Linked DNA regions of Homo sapiens: region 1 is linked to region 2. Evidence: fine-mapped expression QTL. A gene starts in region 2. The other region holds a variant in brackets. All regions are shown on one strand. Distances are from middle to middle.

Region 1 (9,236 bases), 19 kb before region 2:
TGAGACCTCATCTGGAAAAAAAAAATTAGCCAGGTGTGGTGGCGTGTGCCTGTGGTCCCAGCTATTTGGGAGCCTGAGGTGGGAGGATCACTTGAGCCCAGGAGTTTGAGGCTGCAGTGAGACGCAATCATGCCGCTGCACTGCAGCCTGGGTGACAGCAAGACCCTGTCTCAAAAAAAAAAAAAAAAAAAATCTACTCAAGGGTTGGGGTTAAGGAATATGGACCAGAATTTGTCATCGCTTCAGGGATTACATTCTTGGGGCTTAACCCTTTTCCACCTGGAGGTGCGTCCTGGGGCATCAGCCTGCTCGGGAGGAGGGGCCTGACTCCCTGTTCCCCGATTCTCATCCAACCCCAGATTCAGCCAGCAACAGTCCTTCGTACAGATTCTCCAGGAGGTGAATGACTTTGCAGGCCAGCGGGAGCTGGTGGCTGAGAACCTCAGTGTCCGTGTATGTCTTGAGCTGACCAAGTACTCACAAGAGATGAAACAGGAGAGGAAGATGGTGAGGAGCCCCCCGATTCAGGTTTTACAAAGGGCTTCTGCTGGAACCCTGGCGAGCCTTATCACTCTTCTTTCTGTAGCACTTCCAAGAAGGGCGGCGGGCCCAGCAGCAGCTGGAAAATGGCTTTAAACAGCTGGAGAATGTGAGTTTGCAGAGGTAGCAGTGACTGTGGCCCGGAGGCATGGGGGCAGGGTTGCGGATCCGGAGTCAGGGAGCTGCCCTCTTTGTCAGACCTGGACCTTCCCTCCCCCATAGGCTTCCAGTACTCCCTTGACCCCTACTTACTGGATGACATCCCAATAATCCCTGAAACCTTGGTTTCCCACCCTGCTGTCTTTGGGATGGTGGCTCCCTCACTCCGGTTCTGTCCCCTACACAGAGTAAGCGTAAATTTGAGCGGGACTGCCGGGAGGCAGAGAAGGCAGCCCAGACTGCTGAACGGCTAGACCAGGATATCAACGCCACCAAGGCTGATGTGGAGAAGGTGTGTGTGGCGGGGGCGGGGGGGGGGTGCGGGGTCTGGGACAAGCTTGGGGAGTCCGAGTGGGACGTGATCGGAACCTGGCAGTACCTTCCACCTCTGCATTCTTCAGGCCAAGCAGCAAGCCCACCTTCGGAGTCACATGGCCGAAGAAAGCAAAAACGAATATGCGGCTCAACTGCAGCGCTTCAACCGAGACCAAGCCCACTTCTATTTTTCACAGATGCCCCAGATATTCGATGTGAGTGCTCCCAGTTCTCAGACCTACCTTCCCGAAAGCCTCCAAATGTTAGCCAACTCCTACGCATTCATCAAAACCCCAGCTGCAATGTCCCAGTCCCTAGATTGAAAGGGAATCAGAAACCTATAGTAACAGTGAGCTGTGCTTTTAGTCAGCTGTTCTTCCTGCTGGGCATGCCTTTTACTTGTTTGTTTATTTACTTCTATAGAGAGATGGGGCCTGGCTCTGTCACCCGGGCAGGAGTGCAGTGGCATAATCACAGCTCACTGCAGCCTGGAACCCCTGTGCTCAAGTGACCTTTCTTTCTTTTTGAAATTCCTACTTATTCTTCTAAGCTCCACCTCTAACAACCCCTCTGAAAGGTCTCGAATTTCCCCTCTCCTGTTTCAATCTAGCGCTCCACTCTCTGTCCCATCCGTGGCCCTGGGAGTATCAGGGCTGGTTCTGCTTTTTCTTCAAATCCCTGTTCCCTTGTCTCCTCCTTTGAGAAGCCTTTGCTGACCCCCTAGGCACGCGTCCCCCTCTGAGATCCCCCTGGCCCTGTGTCTCTTCCCCAACCACAGTGGGCTGGAGTCTCTCTTCCCGACTCTGTCTTCCCCTCCAGACTGGCTTGGGGCTGGGGCCAGCGTGGAGCGCGATCATATTTGCAGAGTGAATCACTGTGCTTCTAGTCCCTCTGTTAGCACCCCTGAGCCACCCTTGTCCCTGTCCTTACAGAAGCTCCAAGACATGGATGAACGCAGGGCCACCCGCCTGGGTGCCGGGTATGGGCTCCTGTCGGAGGCCGAGCTGGAGGTGGTGCCCATAATAGCCAAGTGCTTGGAGGGCATGAAGGTGGCTGCAAATGCTGTGGATCCCAAGAACGTGGGTGCCTGGTCTGGGTCCACTGGGCTACGGGAAGGGCAGAGGGAGGTACCCATAGGCTAGGCACTCGACTGCTCATCCACTGTCCCCCTCCCCCAGGACTCCCACGTCCTTATAGAGCTGCACAAGTCAGGTTTTGCCCGCCCGGGCGACGTGGAATTCGAGGACTTCAGCCAGCCCATGAACCGTGCACCCTCCGACAGCAGTCTGGGCACCCCCTCGGATGGACGGCCTGAACTCCGAGGCCCGGGTCGCAGCCGCACCAAGCGCTGGCCTTTTGGCAAGAAGAACAAGGTGGGGGCCGGGACCCTTGGGATGGTGGGGGAGAAGGACAGTGAAGTGGGGACAGTGGGGCCCCTATTGAGTCAGCCCCAGCCGCCTGAACGCCGAGTCTCGGGCAGGAATTTTCCTCTTGGCTGCCAGCCCGGACTGGAGGGAAGGAAGGCGGCCGATTGGCCTGGGAGTCCCCCGAGGCGAAGGCGGGGGCAGGGTGGGGAGGTGGGGAGGTCCGTGGCGTTTGTCTGCTGCTTCTCGGGATGCTGGGAGAAAACCTGCTGGTGGAATTCAGGGCTGGCCTGAGGGCTGGTGACACCATCCCTGGGGACTCCCCGAGTTTCTCTCTCCATCCTGCTGATGGGACTCTGGGAGCCGCCCTGCATGTCTTGCTTTCTTGGGTTTTTGGATTTTAATATACCTTAGCACCCTTGGTTTATACCTTTGATTTATACTTTGGGTCCCTCTTCACTTACACTCTCATACCTCTCCTTGACTTAACACCTGTGATCCCCGAGCTTAAACTTCTGATGCCCCTAACCCCTCTCATTTTCCTGCCTTCCACTCCCTCTCGGCTTGTGGTTTTATTTTTGTTTATTTATTTTTGTCCTCTGTGGCCTCTTACCTGTCTGAGACCTTGATTCCTGCATGCGTCTTCTAGACTGTCAGCCCAGAAAGCTAAGTGGACAGAGAGACATGGGCCTCCCTGCCTCCTGGACCCATGCTTGCTCCCGGACATAACATTCCAGAGACCTAGGAGATACCGGGGGAGTGAGAGTTCTGGCTTTCGGGCTTACAGTTCAACATCCTCCCCGCCACCTTCCAGATTTTTTTGTGTCGCTCCTGCATGCGTTTTCTCTGTGTGGTTGTGCATCTTGAGTTGTGGTTTTCTTACCGTTTTTTTTCTTTCTCCATTTTGTTTTTCCTTTTTCCTTTTTTTGCGTCCATCCGTCCATCCGTGCGTCCATCCCTCCGTCCATTCGTCCTCACTCTCTACATCCTCCTATGCCCCCCCACCCCTTCAACCTATCCCCCTCCCCGGCCCCCGCCGGTAGCCTCGCCCCCCACCCCTCTCCCCCCTGGGGGGCCCCGTACCCTCGGCATTGCCTAACGGACCCCCGTCCCCCCGCTCCGGCCGTGACCCCTTGGCCATACTGAGCGAGATCAGTAAGTCGGTCAAACCGAGGCTAGCATCCTTCCGCAGCCTTCGAGGCAGCCGTGGGGTAAGTGAGGCCTCGGGGCAGGAGGAGGTGGTGGCCCTAGCCTGCCCAGCGGCGGGTGGCGGGACCCTGGGCTCGCTTCCTGCCGCTGGCTGGGCCCCTCTTCCCTGGTTGCCCAACCCAGACCTGCTTTGCTCTGTGCATGGCTTCGCTGTCAAGAACCATGGCTGGGGAAGGGAGTGAAATATCTCAGACGGGTGCAGAGTCTGGCAGGCTAGACTCCTTGATCCCAAATTCAGCCCTCT[A/C]CCCACCTTGCAGACAGTGGTGACCGAGGATTTTAGCCACTTGCCCCCAGAGCAGCAGCGAAAACGGCTTCAACAGCAGTTGGAAGAACGCAGTCGTGAACTTCAGAAGGAGGTTGACCAGAGGTAAGGTGGTGGGGTAGGGAAGGACAGGCAAGGAACATGATAAAATAGTAAATGAACTTCACTTATTTGTTTATTATTTTATTTTATTTATTTTATTATATTTTATTTTGTGACAGGGTCTTAGTCTGTCGTCCAGGCTGGAGTGCAGTGCTGTGATCTTAGCTCACTGCAATCGCCACATCCCAGGTTCAAGCAATTCTTGTGCCTCAGCCTGCCGATTAGCTAGGACCACAGGCATGCACCAGCTAATTTTTATATTTTTAGTAGAGGCGGGGTTTCCCCATATTAGCCAGGCTGTCTTGAACTCCTGGCCTCAGTTGATCTGCCTGCCTCAGCCTCCCATAGTGCTGGGATTATAGGCATGAGCCACTGCCCGGGTCTGTAAATGAATGACATTTAAATGGTACTCAAAGATCTCCCCAATAATCCCAAGGCCCCGACGGTTTTACAGGTGATTCCTACCACACTTAGTTACTTCTTGGCCAGGTGCAGTGGCCTGTGCCTGCAATCCCAGCATTTTGGGAGGTTGAGGCAGGAGGATCATCTGAGCCTAGGAGTTTGAGACCTGCCTGGGCAACAGAGTGAGACCCCATTTCTAGCAAAAATAAAAAAATTAGCTGGGTGTGGTGGTTTGTGTCTGTAGTCCCAGCCACTTGGGAGGCTGAGGTGGGAGGATGGCTTAAGCCTGGGAAATGGAGACTACAGTGAGCTGTGACTGCACCACTTGCACTTCAGCCTGGGTGTCAGAGTGAGACCCTGTCTCAAAAAGAAAAAAAGAAACAGTTACTTCTTGTCTTATACAAGTCATTCCAGCAAACAGAAAAAGTGTGAAAGCTGTCAACCTCTTTAGGCTGAAGAATCCTGATTCCCAAATCTGTGGCCAAGAATTCAATAAGATAAAATTAAGGGCTCATTTTACCTTATTTATGATCATAGAGGCAAAATCCTAGCCAAGCAAATCCAGTGTTTAAAAAATAATACATCACTTTGGGAGGCCAAGGAGGGCAGATCACGTGAGGTCAGGAGTTCGAGACCAGCCTGACCAACATGGTGAAACCCCGTCTCTACTAAAAATACAAAAACTAGCTGGGCATTGTGGCACGCGCCTGTAATTCCAGCTACTCGGGAGGCTGAGGTGGGAGAATCGCTTGAACCTGGGAGGCGGAGGTTGCAGTGAGTCAAGACTGCACCACTGCACTCCAGCCTGGGTAACACAGCGAGTCTCTACCTCAAATAATAATAATAATAATAATAATACATTAGCCGAGCACAGTGGCTCATGCCTATAAGCCCAGCACTTTGGGAGGCTGGGTAGAAGGATCACTCACTTGAGCCTAGGAGTTCAAGGCCAGCCTGGGCAACGTAGTAAAACCCCATCTCTTAGAAGAAGAAGAAGAAAAACCCAAGTAAATTTTTTTAAAAACTAAAAAAAAAAAAATCCACCATTGGTTGGGTTTTATCCCAATAATGCAAAGATAGTTCAATATCAAAAAATGTATCCATCTAGTTCACCACATTAATTGGCTAAAAGAAAAGCAGCATATGGTTATCTATTTAATAGCTCAAACACTTAAAATATTGACAATAAAAAAATCTGGCAGATTAAAAAAAAAATCTTTACTCACTCTTTCCAGGCAACAAAATCCTCTTCCCAGTTCTGTTACATAATAGGAATGATGTTTGCCACTTGCAAACAGGCAGCCAAATTATATTTTGCCATTTGCATGTAACCTCTTGGACAGAATGGCTTTTATTGGTGTAAAGTTCCATTCAGAACTCTCTAGTTCCTGAGTTTCTACGGTGGAGGGGTTAAGGGTGCATGTTCTAGAGTCACGACAAACTGGACTTGATTTCCAGCTTCATCTCAGGACTTGGGCAGCCTGTTTTACCTTTTAATTCCTCAGTTTCTTCATCTGTAAAGTGGATCAGGTATTAGAACTGGAATGAAGTTGGCAGGGTGCAGTGGTTTATGCCTGTAATCCAAGCACTTTGGGAGGCCGAGGCAGGCAGATGGCTTGAGACCGAGTTTGAGACCAGCTTGGCCAACATATGGAAATCCTGTCTCTACTAAAAATATAAAAATTAGCCAGGCGTGGTGGCGTGTGCCTGTAGTCCCAGCTACTCCAGAGGCTGAGGCACGAGAATCACTTGATCCCGGGAGGCACAGGTTGCTGTGAGCCGAGATTGCGCCACTGCATTCCAGCCTGGGCGACAGAGTGAGACTGTGTCTCAAAAAAAGATAAAAAATAACTGGAAGGAAGTTGAGCTCAGATCTGGTCTTTTCCAAAGGTCCATTATAGTCGTGACTACCTGTATATATAGACATAGGGGAGACAGGGATGAGAAACTGATGATAATGATAACAGTATTTATTAGTCACTTACTGCATTCTAGGCACTATTCGAAACAGTGTACATGGATTTATTCGAATTTTCAAGGTTTCCTGAGAGATTGTATGCAGACTTAAGATCTGTCTTGTTTAGTGTTATATTTATCTTTATTTATTTTTTCCCCTGCCCCCCCTTCTTTTTTTATTTTTTAAAAATTATTTTGATTTTTTACTAGAGACAAAGTCTCACACCATTGCCCAGGCTGGTCTTGAACTCCTGGCCTCAAGTGATCCTTCCACCTCAGCCTCCCAAAATAATGCTGGGATTACAGATGTGAGCCACCACGGCCAGCCCAGTGTTATATTTCTGATGCTTGGAATAGGACCTGTATGCAGTAGGTACTCAATATGTATATGAGTAATAGTGAGGACTTACTAGGTATCAGGCATTGTATTAATCCTCACAGTGACCCACATGAGATATTAGGATCATTATCTCCATTTCCAAAATAAGCAAACAGCAGTGGGGGTTCAATGATTTAAGCCAAGCTCACACAGCTAGGAAATATTCAAACTGAGATTCGAACCCAGGCAGTCGGGCACTAGTATTTGCATCCTTAACCATTGTCCTGCCTTGCTATTTGCTCCTTGATGCAAAACCCCTGTTTTTTGCTTGTTAAATCACATGGAGCCCGGTGCTGTGGCTCATGCCTGTAATCCCAGCACTTTGGGAGGCTGAGCCAGGAGGATCCCTTGAACTCAGCCTGGGCAACATAGCCAGACCCCATCTCTACTAAAAATTTTTGAAAAATCAGGCGAGTGTGGTGATGCGGGTCTATAGTCCCAGTTACTCAGGAGGCTGAGGCAGGAGTATCACTTGAGCCCGGGAGGTTAAGGTTGCAGTGAGCCATGATTGCACCACTGCACACCAGCCTGGGGAAAGAGTCAGAATGAGACCCTGACTCAAACAAAACAAAACAACAGCAACAAAAAAACTCACACGGAAGTATGTTTTCCTGTCTATCCTGTCTCCCTTGTCATAGGGAAGCCCTAAAGAAAATGAAGGATGTCTATGAGAAGACACCTCAGATGGGGGACCCCGCCAGCTTGGAGCCCCAGATCGCTGAAACCCTGAGCAACATTGAACGGCTGAAATTGGAAGTGCAGAAGTATGAGGTCAGGAAAGACCCTGGGGAGGGGCGGGAGCCAGCGGGCCTGGCTGAGTCACTGCTGGGTGGGGTGGGGGGTCGGGGACAGGGGAGGTGTTCGGAGCGGGGGGTCTCCAGCTGTTTTCCATCACAGCCTTGGCTGTGCGTGGGTGATCTCAGGGAACCTCTGGGTCCAAAGTGGGCTGACCCCGGAGCTCTGCCCTGGAACGATTTTCCTGTCCCCTCCTCCCAGGCGTGGCTGGCAGAAGCTGAAAGTCGAGTCCTTAGCAACCGGGGAGACAGCCTGAGCCGGCACGCCCGGCCTCCCGACCCCCCCGCTAGCGCCCCGCCAGACAGCAGCAGCAACAGCGCATCACAGGACACCAAGGAGAGGTGAGGGGTGACGTCAGAGTGGGTCTGTTCCCAGGGTCCCAGGAGGGCCTGTCTTTATCTGCCGAATTATCCCCAAACAGCTCTGAAGAGCCTCCCTCAGAAGAGAGCCAGGACACCCCCATTTACACGGAGTTTGATGAGGATTTCGAGGAGGAACCCACATCCCCCATAGGTCACTGTGTGGCCATCTACCACTTTGAAGGTGAGAACGGCCAGAGTGGGCTTGGCGGGGTATGGGAGGCAGTGTCTCTGGCTAGGTTCAGTTTAAATTCGCCTAAAGCAGGGCTGGGCGGGTGGCTCAGGCTTGTAATCCCAGCACTTTGGGAAGCTGAGGCAGGCAGATCACTTGAGGTCAAGAATTCCATACCAGCCTGGCGAACACGGTGAAACCCCATCTCTACTGAAAGTACAAAAATTAGCCAGGTGTGGTGGCGCACGCCTGTGATCCCAGCTACTCGGGAGGCTGAGGCAGGAGAATCCCTTGAACCTGGAGGCAGAGGTTGCAGGGAGCCAAGATCCGTGCCACTGCACTCCAGCCTGGGCGAGAGCGAGGCTCTGTCTCAAAAATAAAAAATAAAAATAATAAATTTTGCCTAAAGCAGATCTGGGCCCACCCCCACCCCCATCACAGGGTCCAGCGAGGGCACTATCTCTATGGCCGAGGGTGAAGACCTCAGTCTTATGGAAGAAGACAAAGGGGACGGCTGGACCCGGGTCAGGCGGAAAGAGGGAGGCGAGGGCTACGTGCCCACCTCCTACCTCCGAGTCACGCTCAATTGAACCCTGCCAGAGACGGGAAGAGGGGGGCTGTCGGCTGCTGCTTCTGGGCCACGGGGAGCCCCAGGACCTATGCACTTTATTTCTGACCCCGTGGCTTCGGCTGAGACCTGTGTAACCTGCTGCCCCCTCCACCCCCAACCCAGTCCTACCTGTCACACCGGACGGACCCGCTGTGCCTTCTACCATCGTTCCACCATTGATGTACATACTCATGTTTTACATCTTTTCTTTCTGCCGCTCGGCTCCGGCCATTTTGTTTTATACAAAAATGGGAAAAAAAAAAAAGAAATTATATAAAGTTCCTAGAGTCGGTGTCTTATTAGAGGATTTAAATACTGGGACTGGAAGTATCTAACACCACGTTTCTTACAGGCCACACAGGGAATGAGGAAGGGGAGGTGATCTTGGGCACACCTTGGGTCAACCCTGCCCCTTTCTGGAAGTTGGCCTATGTCATTGTCAGTGGGTGTCTGCTTGTGACTCAGGTAGGGAGAAGGATACCAAGTTTCTTTTTTTTTTCTTTTTGAGACAGTCTCACCCAGTTGCCCAGGCTGGAGTGCAGTGGCGTACGTGATCTCAGCTCACTGCAGACTCCATCTCCCGAGTTCAAGCAATTCTGCCTCAGCCTCCCA
Region 2 (13,249 bases):
ACAAAGTCCCTGCATGTTTTAAGTCATCGTGATTGTCATCATTTTCTAAAGCAAGAAATTGAGGCTCGAAGAGGTGCCTGCACCTGACCAAGATCTCTTAGGTGGTGAGTGGCAGAGCCAATCCCTGAGCCACAGGCCATTCTAGCAGACACTTACCCATCCCAGCGGGGTCTTCTCTTGACCGCCCCATATGTGCCAAATCTGCAGGCTGACTGTTGCTCCACTTCCTTGCCCTGGGGGACAGAAGTGGGAGAAACCTGTAGTCCCCACCTAAGCAGTGTCCCCCACCAATATCTGCAAAACCCTGTGTCCAGTTACTCTGTACCAGTGAGTCTCAACCAATCAAGGTGACCTACGTCCAGGGGACTCTTAGCAACGTGTGGAGACATCTTTAGTTGTCACAACTAGTAGCATCTAGTTGGATGGAGCTCAGGAATGCTGCTCAGCACCCTATGATGCACAGGACATCTCCACCTCCTCCCCCACAACTAAGAATGTTCGGGCCTCAAAAGTCAACCAAGGCCGGGTGCGGTGGCTCACACCTGTAATCCCAGCACTATGGGAGGCTGAGGCGGGCGGTCACGTGAGGTCAAAAGTTCAAGACCAGCCAGGCCAACATGGTGAAACCCTGTCTCTACTAAAAATACAAAAAATTAGCCAGGCGTGGTGGCTCATGCCTGTAATCCCAGCACTTTGGGAGGCCGAGGCGGGTGGATCACTTGAGGTCAGGAGTTTGAGACCAGCCTGGCCAACATGGTGAAACCCCGTCTCTACTAAAAATACAAAAAATTAGCCAGGCATGGTGGTGCACGCCTGTAATCCCAGCTACTCGGGAAGCTGAGACAGGAGAATTGCTTGAACCCGGGAGGCGGAGGTTGCAGTGGGCTGAGATCGTGCCATTGCACTCCAGCCTGGGCAACAGAGTGAGACTTCGACTCCAGAGAAAAATAAAAAATAAAAAAGTAAAAAAATTAGCTGGGCGTGGTGGTGCACTCCTGTAATCCCAGCTACTCTGGAGGCTGAGGCAGGAGAATCGCTTGAACCTGAGAGGTGGAGGTTGCAGTGAGCTGAAATCATGCCACTGCACTCCAGCCTGGGCAACAGAGTGAGACTCAGTCAAAAAAAAAAAAAGTCAACCATTGAGTTGGAAAACCCTGCGAGTGTTGGGTGTTCTCAAGGAGGCAGGGAGACTGTGAGTACCTGAGAGGCTCTATCCGAGCTGGGCCATCCATCAGGGTGTCCTCGCTAAAGCTGCGTCGCAGAGGCCCCTGCCAAGTCACAGGCCTGGAGACCACAGCCCCTGTGGCCTGGGACAGTGGGCGCCTGCCTGTCATATAACTGTGAACCAGAGCCGGTATGCTGGGGAATTGCTCATCCTCCAGTTGAAAGAGGGCTGTGGGTCGGCCTGGCCGGGGACGCAGGGCCACACGGAACACCTCAAAATGGAGGGCTGAGCCCCGCCAGCGGCAGGAGATCACGGGGTTGCCCCCACGGGACCCAGAGGCGCGAACCAGGAAGTCGCCATTTTGCTGAAGAAGAGCTTCAGCCTTCTGTGGATGAAGTTCAGGGGGCAGGGGAATTAGGAATGAGTCCAGGGCAGTGGTTAATGGTAGCTCCCCCCACCATTGCCCCCACCACCCAAGAAAAGCTACCCCAGTGAAACTTCTGTGGCAGGCAAAGACGGGGAACTTTCACACCAAGTTCTGTCCCCCTTTCTCCTGGCACCTACGTAGACTACATTTCCCAGGTTCCCTTGCGGCTAGGGTTGTCATGTGATGAGAACTGGCCAATGGGATGTGGGGTAGAAGGGCTATGGGAAATATCCAGACCTGGCGCATAAAACCCTGCTGCACAATCTTATAGGTTGTGTCCCCTGTCTGTCAGCTGATATCCCCCAAAGCCCAGAGGGATGACAGAGCTACAAGATGCACTTGGCTCCCAACTGATTTATGGAGCTTTGCATCTCTGCTTCTCAACCACCTTGGACTATGACATTAACATGTTGACTGTGTTTAGCTGGTGATATCTTGGGAATGTTTGTTACAGCCACTAGCTGATGCTGACCAATGCAACATCTAATTTGGTAAATGCACTGTGCTTGTTATGCAAATGTGGCTTCAAGAGAAGCCATTAGCTGGATGCTTCCAGATTGGGGCCCCCTCTTTTATAAACATTTGCAAGCAGTCTTATGCCAGCTGTGGTGGCTGGTGTCAAAATAGGGTAGGAAGGGTGGGGCACAGTGGCTCACACCTGTAATCCCAGCACTTTGGGAGGCTGAGGTAGGCAGATCACTTGAGATCAGGAGTTTGAGACCAGCCTGGGCAACATGGCAAAACCCTGTCTCTACCAAAAAATATAAAAATTAGCTGAGCGTGGTGGTGTGCACCTGTCATTCCAGCTACTCAGGAGGCTGAGGTGGGAGAATCGCTTGAACCCAGGAGGCAGAGGTTGCAGTGAGCCGAGATGGAGCCATTGCACTCCAGCATGGGTGACAGAGTGAGATCATGTCTCAAAAACAAAAAAAAAACAAAAAAAAAAACAAAAAAAAGGCTTGGGGAGGCAGGTAGAAGGGCCAGGACCCCAGAGAGAGGCAAAGTAGAGCTGAACATGGGGTCTGGGGACTAAATAATAGATGTAGCAGACACACGTGTGTAGCCCTTACTATATGTCAAGCACTGCTTTAAATGTAAAGGGTGTTAACTCTTGTAATTCCTGTAACAAGGGTGGTAGGTATTATTATACCTTTTTTTGTTGTTGTTCTTTGGGACGGAGTTTCACTCTTGTTGCTCAGGCTGGAGTGCAATGGCACAATCTCGGCTCACTGCAACCTCTGCCTCCTGGGTTCAAGCGATTCTGCTGTCTCAGCCTCCCGAGTAGCTGGGATTACAGGTGCATGCCACCATGCCTGGCTACTTTTTTGTATTTTTAGTAGAGAGGGGGTTTCATCATATAGGTCAGGCTGGTCTCGAACTCCTGACTTCAGGTGATCTACCCACCTCGGCCTCCCAAAGTGCTAGGATTACAGGCATGAGTCACCATGCCCGGCCCATTTTTTTCTTCCGGCCTTTTTTTTTTTTTTTTTTTTTTGAGTCAAGGTCTCTCTCGATTGCCCAGGCTGAGTGCAGTGGAGCACTCATGGCTCACTCACAGCCTTGACCTCCTGGGCTTAAGCAATCCTCCCATCTCAGCCTCCTGAGTAGTTGGGACAACAGGTACATGCCACCCATGCCTGGATAATTTTCGCTTTTTTTTTTTTTTTTGTGTAGAGACAGAGTTCTGCTATGTTGCCCAGACTGGTTTGGAACTCCTGACCTCAAGTGATCCTCCTGCCTCAGCCTCCCAAAGTGCTGGGATTACAGGCATGAGCCAACATGCCTGGCCTGCTATCCCTATGTTAAAGATCGGGAGACTGAGGCCCAGAGAGGTCAAATGTCCTGCCCAAGGTCACATACAATATAAATTGTAGGGTTTGGATTTGAACCTAGGGTGTCTGGGTCTCAATTATGGGATTTTAACTATTAAGTTCTACTGCCTCTCATGATTTCATGAGATGCTCAGGGTCCCAGAATTTTTGGGGGTGACAACTGAGTTTCAGATGGAGGTGGGAGCCTCAGATTTATTTGTTTGTTTATTTATTTATGTTTTTGACAGAGTCTCGCTCTGTTACCCAGTCTGGAGTGCAGTGGCACAATTGTGGCTCACTACAACCTCTGCCTCCTGGGTTCAAGAGATTCTCCTGCCTCAGCCTCCCAAGTAGCTGAGACTACAGGCGCATACCACCATGTCTGGCTAATTTTTGTATTTTTATTAGAGATGGGGTTTCACAATGTTGGCCAGGCTGGTCTTGAACTCCTGACTTCAAGTGATCCGCCCACCTCGGCCTTTCAAACTGTTGGGATTACAGGCGTGAGCCACCATGCCTGGCTTGGGAGCCTCACATTTAGAGGGAAATACCAGGAGGTAGATGGAGTTCAGAGGGAGAGACGGCCAGAGCCAAGAGTAGTTTGGGGGCATTAGGACTCTCCTTAAGCTCCATCACCAATCTCATCATCCCAAAGAAAGTGATAATTTAAATATAGTGACAGTCCCCAGCCAGCCAACCTTCAAGACAGTCCCCAGCCCTCTGCCACCTGTCCCAATAGACCTTGGCACTAAGTCCCTCATCCAGGGACCCAGGAATCCTCAGCAAGGGTGGGAGAGGCTCCCCACCAGATGGTGCTGAGGTCCTGCTGTGGGTGGTACCTGGCGGGACAGGAGGCCGTGGTACCAAGGTTGGCCAGCAAGGTCTTCTCCATCCTGTGGCACCTGCATGGAGCTCTTGGGAACAGAGGGTGCCAGGGCTGAGCTCTGCACTTTCAACAGGCCTCAGTCTTCCACATCTGTAAAAGGGGAATAATTAGCCCTGCTTGAGTGTCTGGGTCAGCTCCTTTCATCCTCTTCTTAATTTTGGAGACAGCTCCATCAAATCTTTTTTTTTTTTTTTTTTTTTTTTTGAGACAGAGTCTCATTCTATCACCCAGGCTGGAGTGCAATGGTGCGATCTTGGCTCACTGCAACCTCTGCCTCCCAGATTCAAGCGATTCTCCTGCCTCAGCCTCCCAAGTAGCTGGGATTACAGGCATGCACCACCACACCCAGCTAATGTTTTTTCTTTTTTTATATTTGTAGTAGAGACAGGGTTTCACTGTGTTCGCCAGGCTGGTCTTGAACTCCTGACCTCAGGTGATCCACCTGCCTCAGCCTCCCAAAGTGCTGGGATTACAGGCATAAGCCACTGCACGCAGACTTTTTTTTTTACATTTAAAGAGAGAGGTCTTATGTGTTGCCCAGGCTGGAGTGCAGTGCTATTCACAGGTGTGATCATAGCACACTTTAGCCTTGAATTCCTGGGCTCAAGGAATCCTCTAGCCTCAGCCTCCCAAGTAGTTGGGATTACAGATGTCACCATCGTGCCTGTTCCAAATATAATGCAATCGAAGAAAAAAAAAATGGCTGAAGATGACAACATGCCACCCCATCTTGCAGAAATGTAATTAATGAATTCACTGAACCCCTATTTATTCAGCACCTTATGGGGTCCCAGGCTCTGTTCTAGGCCCTAGAGACATAGCATTGAACAAAACAGATGGAAATCTCTGTCCTTGGGAGCTGACATTCTACTGGGGAGCAGCACCTCAGAAAAGAACTAGATGATGGCATACATGAGTGAGTGCTAGACAAAAAAACTAAACCATGGATGGGATATAATGAAAGTACAGGTGCTAGGGTGAACACTCTTTTTTTTTTGAGACAGAGTCTTGCTTTATTGCCCAGGCTGGACTGCAGTGGTGCAATCACAGCTCATTGCGGCCTTGACCTCCTGGGCTCAAGTGATTCTCCCACCTCATCCTTCTGAGTAGCTGGGACTATGAGCGTGGGCCACTGTACCTGGCTAATTTTTTTTTTTTTTTTTTTTTTTGAGATCAAGTCTCACTCTGTTGCCCAGGCTGGAGTGCAGTGGCATGATCTCAGTTCATTGCAACTTCCGCCTGCTGGTTTCAAGCAATTCTCGTGCATCGGCCTCCTCAGTAGCTGGGACTACAGGTGTGTGCCACCATGCCTGGCTAATTTTTAAAATATTTTTAATAGAGATGGGGTTTCTCCATGTTGGCCAGGCTGGTCTCGAACTCCTGACCTCAGGTGATCCACCCTCCTCAGCCTCCCAAAGCACTGGGATTACCAGCATGAGCCACTGCGTCTGGCTGTGCCTGGCTAATTTTTAAATATATATGTAGAGATTGGGTCTTGCCACGTTGCCCAGGCTGGGTGAACATTTTTGATCATGTGACCAGGAAAGGTCTCATTGAGTAAAGTCTGGAAGGAATTCTGGGGAGTGTGCCAGGTGACTCTGGGTGAAAAAACATCCCAGTCAGGGGGAATTTAACTTACAAACATCCATGGCTTCTCGGCAACCTATGCGCACACTCAGAGGTTCTCAGGATAGGTGCAGATCTAACCCCTATTCTTTGCTTTAGAATGCAACGCTGGGGGCCAGGCGCGGTGGCTCACTCTTGTAATCCTAGCACTTTGGGAGGCAGAGGTGGGTGGATCATCTGAGGTCAGGAGTTTGAGACCAGCCTGGTCAACACAGTGAAACCCCGTCTCTACTAAAAATACAAAAATTAGCCAGGCATGGTGGCGTGTGCCTGTAGTCCCAGCTACTCAGGAGGCTGAGGAGAGAGAATCGCTTGAATCCAGGAGGCAGACCCTGCAGTGAACCGAGATCACACCACTGCACTCCAGCCTGGGTGACAGAGCAAGACTCCGTCTCAAAAAAAAAAAAAAAAAAAAGAATGTAACCCCAGGGTTAAGATTTTTAAAAGGTCACATTTTGTAGCAATGTCAGCAAACAGCAATGTTGCCTTTGCAGATCCTTCTATTTCGGAGCCCATACATGTGGTTATCATGATGATTGAATTTGGATCTCAGACATTTTGGTAGTTTCCCGATAATCTCACAGGCCTCAGGGCCAGTGTGTCTCAGGTGTCTGGTGGGGGAGATTTCTCTGGATGGTCCAGAAGAAGATAATCTGCTTCTTACTCTCCTGCAAGCTCTCCCTGCAGCCCTGCAAAGTCTTCTGGTGGGGTCTGCAGAGAAATTCCTGCCTCCTGAGTCAGCAGGAAGTTCCCAGACCAGCCCTAGGTGGCTTTAGGGGAGGAGCGCTGGGCAGGGAGCCAGCTGCCAGTGCCGCATACCTGAAGCCAGGTGTGTCTTTGCAATGCCTGCGCACTTCCTGTTTGTCACCTGGACCAGGGCTAGCCTCGGTCGCAGAGTTTCCCAACCCCAAGTTCCTGTCTTGTGTCTCCCTTAGTGAGAGTGAAGTTGAGTCAATGGCAAGGTTCTGGTTAGTTTGAGGACACAGGGTGGCCATAGGTCAGCCAAAGGCCAACTAAGCCATCTCCTGCCTCTGAGTCCTTTGGGATCATTTATTCGGGCACGGAAGAGAAGAAACGGGCAGAATCAGGAATCAGACCAAGCATAGAGAGAGGAGAGAGGGGATTATTCATGTTCCAGTTGGATCATAAACATGTGTCCACGTGTGGGGAGGACGTGGAGGGTGGGAACCACCAGCACAGGCAACACAAACACAGATGTAGGCAGGACTCGCTTTTGACGTTGGACGACCATTGCTGGAGCACTTGCTGTGCACCAGGCTCTGTTCTAGGACCTAGAGATACAGTGACTAAGGAGATTAAAGCTCGGCACCACCCTGCCCTCCAGAGCTTGCAGTCGGCTGCGCAAGACAGACTGCAAACGAGCACAAGATGAATGGAGAAGACAGACCATTTCTAAGAGTTATCAATGAAAGTGATAAGCCAGGGAGATGTGATAGAGGAGGCTGGACAGGACAGCCTCTCCTATAAAGTGACATTGGAACTGAGACCTCAGTACAGAAGGAGGCAGTTAGGCAAAGATTTGGAGGAGTCGCCTGGGTGAGGGGTACAGTAAGGGTAAAGGCCTGGAGCTGAGATGGACTTGCTTTTTACATTTTACATCATCAAGGCGGCTGGTGTAGCCGGAATACGATGAGGAAGGAGTAGATAGGAGGGCAATGAGGTTGGAGAGATCAGGAGGAGAGACTAGGCAAAAACTAGTGGACTTTGAATTTTAATCTCTATGACCCAAGGGTTTTAAGTGAAGGAGGGGCCCGATCTGATTCGCCGTTTAAGAGGATCACTCAGGCAAAAATGGAAACAATGGCTTTCTGTGCTGCACAGGAAATACACTTAGAGAGGCACGCCCAGGTGAGCCCGAGCACACCGACACGCGTAACGCACAGCGACCCTCTCATTCGCGAGGCGACCTCTTCTACCCCAGATCCTCCCTGCGAGCCGGTGACCCCACCTGGAAAGAGAGGACTCCCCATCCCAATAATCCTGGTTCTGGATCTGCCCTGGGGCTCCACTCACCTGGGCAGGACCCGCGGGGCTCCCACGAGGCTGGGTCCAGGCGGAAGCTGAGGCTCCGCGGCTCCGGGCTGCTGTCACCCCCGCCCTCCACCTTGCCACCGCCCCAGCCTTCCCAGACCACACCTAGTGGGAACTCAGCCCAGTTACCTGACCACACCTCCTGCAGACCCCGCCCCCTGCGGGCCCCGCCTCAAACTAACTTCCCAGGCCCTTGCTCCGCCCCCTTAAAACCATTTTTTTTGCTACTAGCCACGCCTCCTTCTGCATCGCACCGCTTTCTCCATAGACCCCGCCCACTAGGGGAGCACCACGCATCCTTTCCTGCCAGTGGCCCCTCCCCTTGTATATAGCCACGACCACCGCCGAATGACTACGCCCACCCGCAGCCACCTCCTTCTCAGCCCCGCCCCTTAGGGCAATAGAAGAAATTTCATCCCAACGTTCCCGCCCCTTAGAACCCTGCCCCTCCCTTCCACCCAGGCGGCCCCAAGCACCCATGGCCCTTTGGGACCAGGGCGGGGTGGAGTGGGGTGCCTCTCTCCCCTCCCCGCCAAGGCTCCGGGTCAGGGCAGGGCAACTCCCTCGGGCTCTTACGCCAGGCTGGGGTAGCTGCGGCAGCTGTGACGTAAGGAGGGGTACGCTTCCTCCAGACCGCCCTCCCGGATTTTCCGGAAAGAAGCCCCATTTAGGTGGCGGGTTTTGTGGAGAGACGTCCGGGAAAACGCGACAGCTTCCTTCAGTGACAGCACGCTGGAGCGGGGCGGGACTTTGGTGGAGGTGGAAGGCAAATCATTCAGGTGGTTTCCCAGGTGGGAAGAAGGGTGGGGGGGACTTCCATCGTGATGCCTGGAGACGAACAAGAGAAAAGGTGACAGGGACCTAGTGCAAGAGAGAGGACTCTTTGGCCACGTTTATTGATGAGTTCCTCATATTAACATCAGTCTTGTCTTGTAGAGACAGGGTCTTGCTATATTGCCCAGGCCGGAGTGCAGTGGTGATCATAGCTCACTGTAGCCTCAACCTCCTGGGCTTAAGCTATCCTCCCGCTTCAGCCTTCCAAGCAGCTGAGACTAAAGGTGCACACCACCACACCCAGCTGATTTTATTTTATTTTTTGTAGATGTGGCGTCTTACTATGCTGCCCAGGCTCTGGAACTCCTGGGCTCATGCGAACTTCCTGCCTTGGCCTCCCAGAGCGCTGAGATTACAAGCAAGCATGAACCACTGTGCTTGGCCCCAGTAACCACAGTCTTAAAAGCAGTAGCAGCAGCTAACATTTATTGAGCACTTACTGTACACAAGGGCTGTTCTGTCAACTTGCCTTTATTTTATTTTATTTTATTTTTTGAGATGGAGTTTCACTCTCGTTGCCCAGACTGGAGTGCAGTGGCAGCAGTCTCAGCTCACTGCAACCTCCACCTCCCCGGTTCAAGCGATTCTCCGGCTGTAGACTCCCGAGTAGCTGGGATTACAGGCTAATTTTTGTATTTTTAGTAGAGATGGGGTCTCGGCCAGACTGGTCTCAAACTCCTGACCTCATGTGATCCACCTGCCTCGGCCTCCCAAAGTGCTGGGGTTACAGGCATGAGGCCTCTATTTTAATTTTCAAACAGACCACCCTGTAAGGGTGGTAGGTAGTATTTTCATCACTTCCATTTTCCAGATGGAGAAACTGAGGCACAGGGCAACTAAACCATTTGCCCAAGTTAACCTGGCTTGTAAGTGGTAGAGGCGAAATTCAAACCCGGAGCTCTGGAGCTTTATCCTGTCTGCCTCCTTTTCAATCTTCGCATGCCCACTTTCTCCACGATGCTGCTTTGCGGTGAAAGTTACTCACCCACCATTTTACAGATGAGGAAATTGAGGCCTAGAGGGCCAACGATGCTTGGGGATGAAAAGTTTTGATGCCTGTAGGTTGCAAAGCAGGGAATTTCCAGACTGGGCTCCCCCGACTGGCCCTGGCAAATATGGAAGAGACTCCAGGCTCAAGAGGGGAAGAAAGTTTCTTCCTTATCCCTCACCGGTCTGGTATTGGTACAGTCAGAGGGTAGGGGCATGTTCAGGGAAGGGGTCTAGCGCCTCCTCGTGGTTATAATAATTTAAAAAGAGGGCCCAGCACTTTGGGAGGCCGAGGTGGGCAGATCACCTGAGGTCAGGAGTTCCAGACCAGCCTGACCAACATGGTGAAACCCTGTCTCCACTAAATACAAAATTAGCTGGGTGTGGTGGAATGCACCTGTAATCCCAGCTACTGGGGAGGCTGAGGAAGGAGAATCACTTGAACCTGGGAGGCGGAGGTTGCTGTGAGCAGATTAGCTGTGTGTGGTGGCATGCACCTGTAATCCCGGCTACTAGGGAGGCTGAGGAAGGAGAATCACTTGAACCTGGGAGGCAGAGGTTGCTGTGGGCAGAGATTGCACCATTGCACTCTAGCCTGGGCAACCAGAGTGAAACTTTCTCCTAAGAATAATAATAACGATAATTTAAAAAGAAACTCCATGATGAGGGCCACGTATTAGGTGGACGGGGGAGGGCCTGCTTACACTCTACTGGGGTGGAAGCTAGGGATGGGGGCAGAGAGACCTAATCTCATGAAGATGATTTCAGCTAATGATAAGGTAATGGCCGGGAAGCCAGTAAATGTTTGTTGAATGAGTTAATGAAAGACACTATTGGGCCTGGCACAGTGGCTCGTGCCTGTAATCCCAGCACTTTGGGAGGCTGAGGCAGGTGGATCACTTGAGGCCAGGAGTTTGAGACCAGCCTGGGCCACATGGCGAAACCCTGTCTCTACTGAAAATACAAAAATTTAGCCACGCATGGTGACACCTATAATCCCAGCTACTCGGGAGGCTGAGGCAGGAGAATCACTTGAATCTGGGAGGCAGAGGTTGCAATGAGCCGAGATTGCGCCACTACACTCCAGCCTGGTCCATAGAGCAAGACAAAAAAAAAAAAAAAAAAAGACACTATTGTAGTCTATAAGGAGAGGGATGATGGTGGCTTGGATTTGGGTGGTGACCATGGACATGGTGATAAAGGGATGGATTTGGGATAAATGTCAGGTGCAGTCAATAGAGCTTTCAATTATTTATTCATTCAACAGGTATTTAAGGGGCATGCCTATGTGTCAGGTGCTGCATAAGAGAGGGGTCAGTAGTGAACCAAAGAAACATAAATTCTTGAACAGACAATAAAGAAACAATGATGAGCGGGTGCCATGGCCCACGTCTGTAATCCCAGTACTTTGGGAAGCCGAGGTGGGAGGATTGCTTGAGGCCAGGAGTTCAAGACCAGCCTGGGCAACATAGTAAAAGCCCCTCTCTGCAAAAAAATTTAAAATTAGCCAGGCACAGTGGCACAAGCCTGTAGTTCCAGCTACTTGGGAGGCTGAGGCGGGAGGATCACTTGAGCCCAGGAGTTTGAGGCTGCAGTGAGCTATGATCATGCCACTGAACTCCAGCCTGGATGACAGAAGAAAGAGCCTGGGCACAGTGACTCAAGCCTGTAATCCCAGCACTTTGGAAGACCAAGGCGGGCAGATCACTTGAGGTCAGGAGTTTGAGACCAGCCTGGCCAACATGCTGAAACCCTGTCTCTGTGAAAATACAAAAATTACCTGGGCATGGTGGCAGGTGCCAGTAATCCCAGCTGCCTGGGAGGCTGAGGTCAGGGAAAACCTGGGAGGCAGAGCTTGCAGTGAGCTGAGATCATGCCACTGCACTCCAGCCTGGGTGACAGAATGAGACCCTGTCAAAAAAAAAAAAAAAAAAAAAAAAAAAAAGCCGGGCGCGGTGGCTCACGCCTGTAATCCCAGCACTTTGGGAGGCTGAGGCAGGTGGATCACCTGAGGTCAGGAGTTCGAGACCAGCCTGACCAACATGGAGAAACCCTGTCTCTACTAAAAATACAAAATTAGCTGGGCGTGGTGATGCATGCCCGTAATCTCAGCTACTTGGGAAGCTGAGACAGGAGAATCGCTTGAACCCAGGAGGCAGAGGTTGTGGTGAGCTGATCACACCACTGCACTCTAGCCTGGGCAACGAGAGTGAAACTCCGTCTCAAAAGAAAAAAAAAGAAGAAAGAAGCCTGGCGCGGTGGCTCACGCCTGTAATCCCAGCACTTTGGGAGGCTGAGGCGGGCGGATCATGAGATCGGGAGATCGAGACCACGATGAAACCCTGTCTCTACTAAAAATACAAAAAATTAGCCAGACGCGGTGGCGGACGCCTGTAGTCCCAGCTACTCAGGAGGCTGAGGCAGGAGAATGGCGTGAACCCGGGAAGCGGAGCTTGCAGTGAACTGAGATTGCGCCACCGCACTCCAGCCTGGGTGACAGAGTGAGACTCCGTCTCAAAAAAAAAAAAAGAAGAAAGAAACAAAGAGAGAAAGAAAGGAAAGAAAGAAAGGAAGGAAGGAAGGAAGGAAGGAAGGAAGGAAGAAAGGAAGGGAGGGAAAGAGGGAGAGAAAGGAAGGAAGGAAAAAAATAACTTAAAAAATCAGATTTGTTGGACAAAGATCAGGGCTTAACCTAGGGAGGTGGGTAGAGCTAATGGAATGCGGAAAAGGCTGTGATTTGAAATGAGGGGATTTAGGAAGACCTCATGAGAAGGTAGCATTTGAGCAAAGACATGTAGGGGTGAGGGAGCTAGCCATGAAGTTGCTTAAGGTGGAGGACACAGCCCGTGCAAAGGCCCTGGGGCAGGGCCGTATGTTCCTGGCATGTTGGAGGAAGAGCGAAGAGGCCCGTGTGGCTGGAGCACAGTGAAGAGGGGGAGAGAGGGAGTGGGGAGGGCAGGGAGGGAACTGGGCAATTCAAGCAGGGTTTTGTGGGCCTTGGGGAGGACTTGGGCTTGTCCCTGGAGGAAAGTGGGAGCCATAGAGAGTTGTGGGCAGAAGAAGGGTGTGCCCTGACTCAGATGCTCACAGGCAACCTCTGGTGGTGGCTGCAGGGAGGACAGACTGTGGGGTACGGGGGCTGGAGTCAGAAGACCAGCTGAGTGATGACGGGGCTGGACCAGACAGAGGAGGGGGTGAGAAGTGGGTGAATTCTGGGTATATTTCAGAGTGTCACTGCCGCCGTCTGCATATGGAGGAAGCTCACCCATCTCATAGTCTAGCTGGCCTGACTCCCCCAGCCCCCCAACTCCCCATGCCCAGGCCTGTGTCGAGTGGGCGGAAGAAAGAGATGTCAGATTCTGCATGGAAGGCGTGGGGTGGGGCTGGGCTGCAGGTGCTCCCCCAGCTCCCCCCCGCCCCATGGCTCCTCCTCCTCCACCCCCTCTCAGGGCGACAGTTAC

What was found. PIP is the estimated chance that this variant, and not a neighbour inherited with it, causes the effect.
Region 1: its variant is fine-mapped to the expression of SH2D3A in whole blood (TOPMed, PIP above 0.99).

What each region holds. Positions count from the first base shown.
Region 1 is chr19:6,742,608-6,751,843 of GRCh38, forward strand. It overlaps TRIP10 (thyroid hormone receptor interactor 10), which reads left to right. Exons shown (of 15, transcript NM_001288962.2): 4 at 360-507; 5 at 587-649; 6 at 887-991; 7 at 1,101-1,229; 8 at 1,947-2,093; 9 at 2,193-2,387; 10 at 3,422-3,589; 11 at 3,845-3,954; 12 at 7,327-7,459; 13 at 7,685-7,824; 14 at 7,905-8,026; 15 at 8,456-8,923. The coding sequence ends at 8,604. LOC124904623 (a long non-coding RNA gene) reads right to left here and starts at 5,980. Exons shown (of 2, transcript XR_007067109.1): 1 at 5,844-5,980; 2 at 5,557-5,749. RefSeq lists enhancers at 165-1,084, 3,136-3,636. The variant A/C (reference allele first, on the strand shown) is at 3,832.
Region 2 is chr19:6,759,438-6,772,686 of GRCh38, forward strand. SH2D3A (SH2 domain containing 3A) reads right to left here and starts at 7,998. Exons shown (of 10, transcript NM_005490.3): 1 at 7,950-7,998; 2 at 4,243-4,379; 3 at 1,201-1,550; 4 at 157-233. The coding sequence starts at 4,311. RefSeq lists enhancers at 1,393-1,893, 5,488-6,388 and silencers at 8,477-8,536, 13,090-13,249.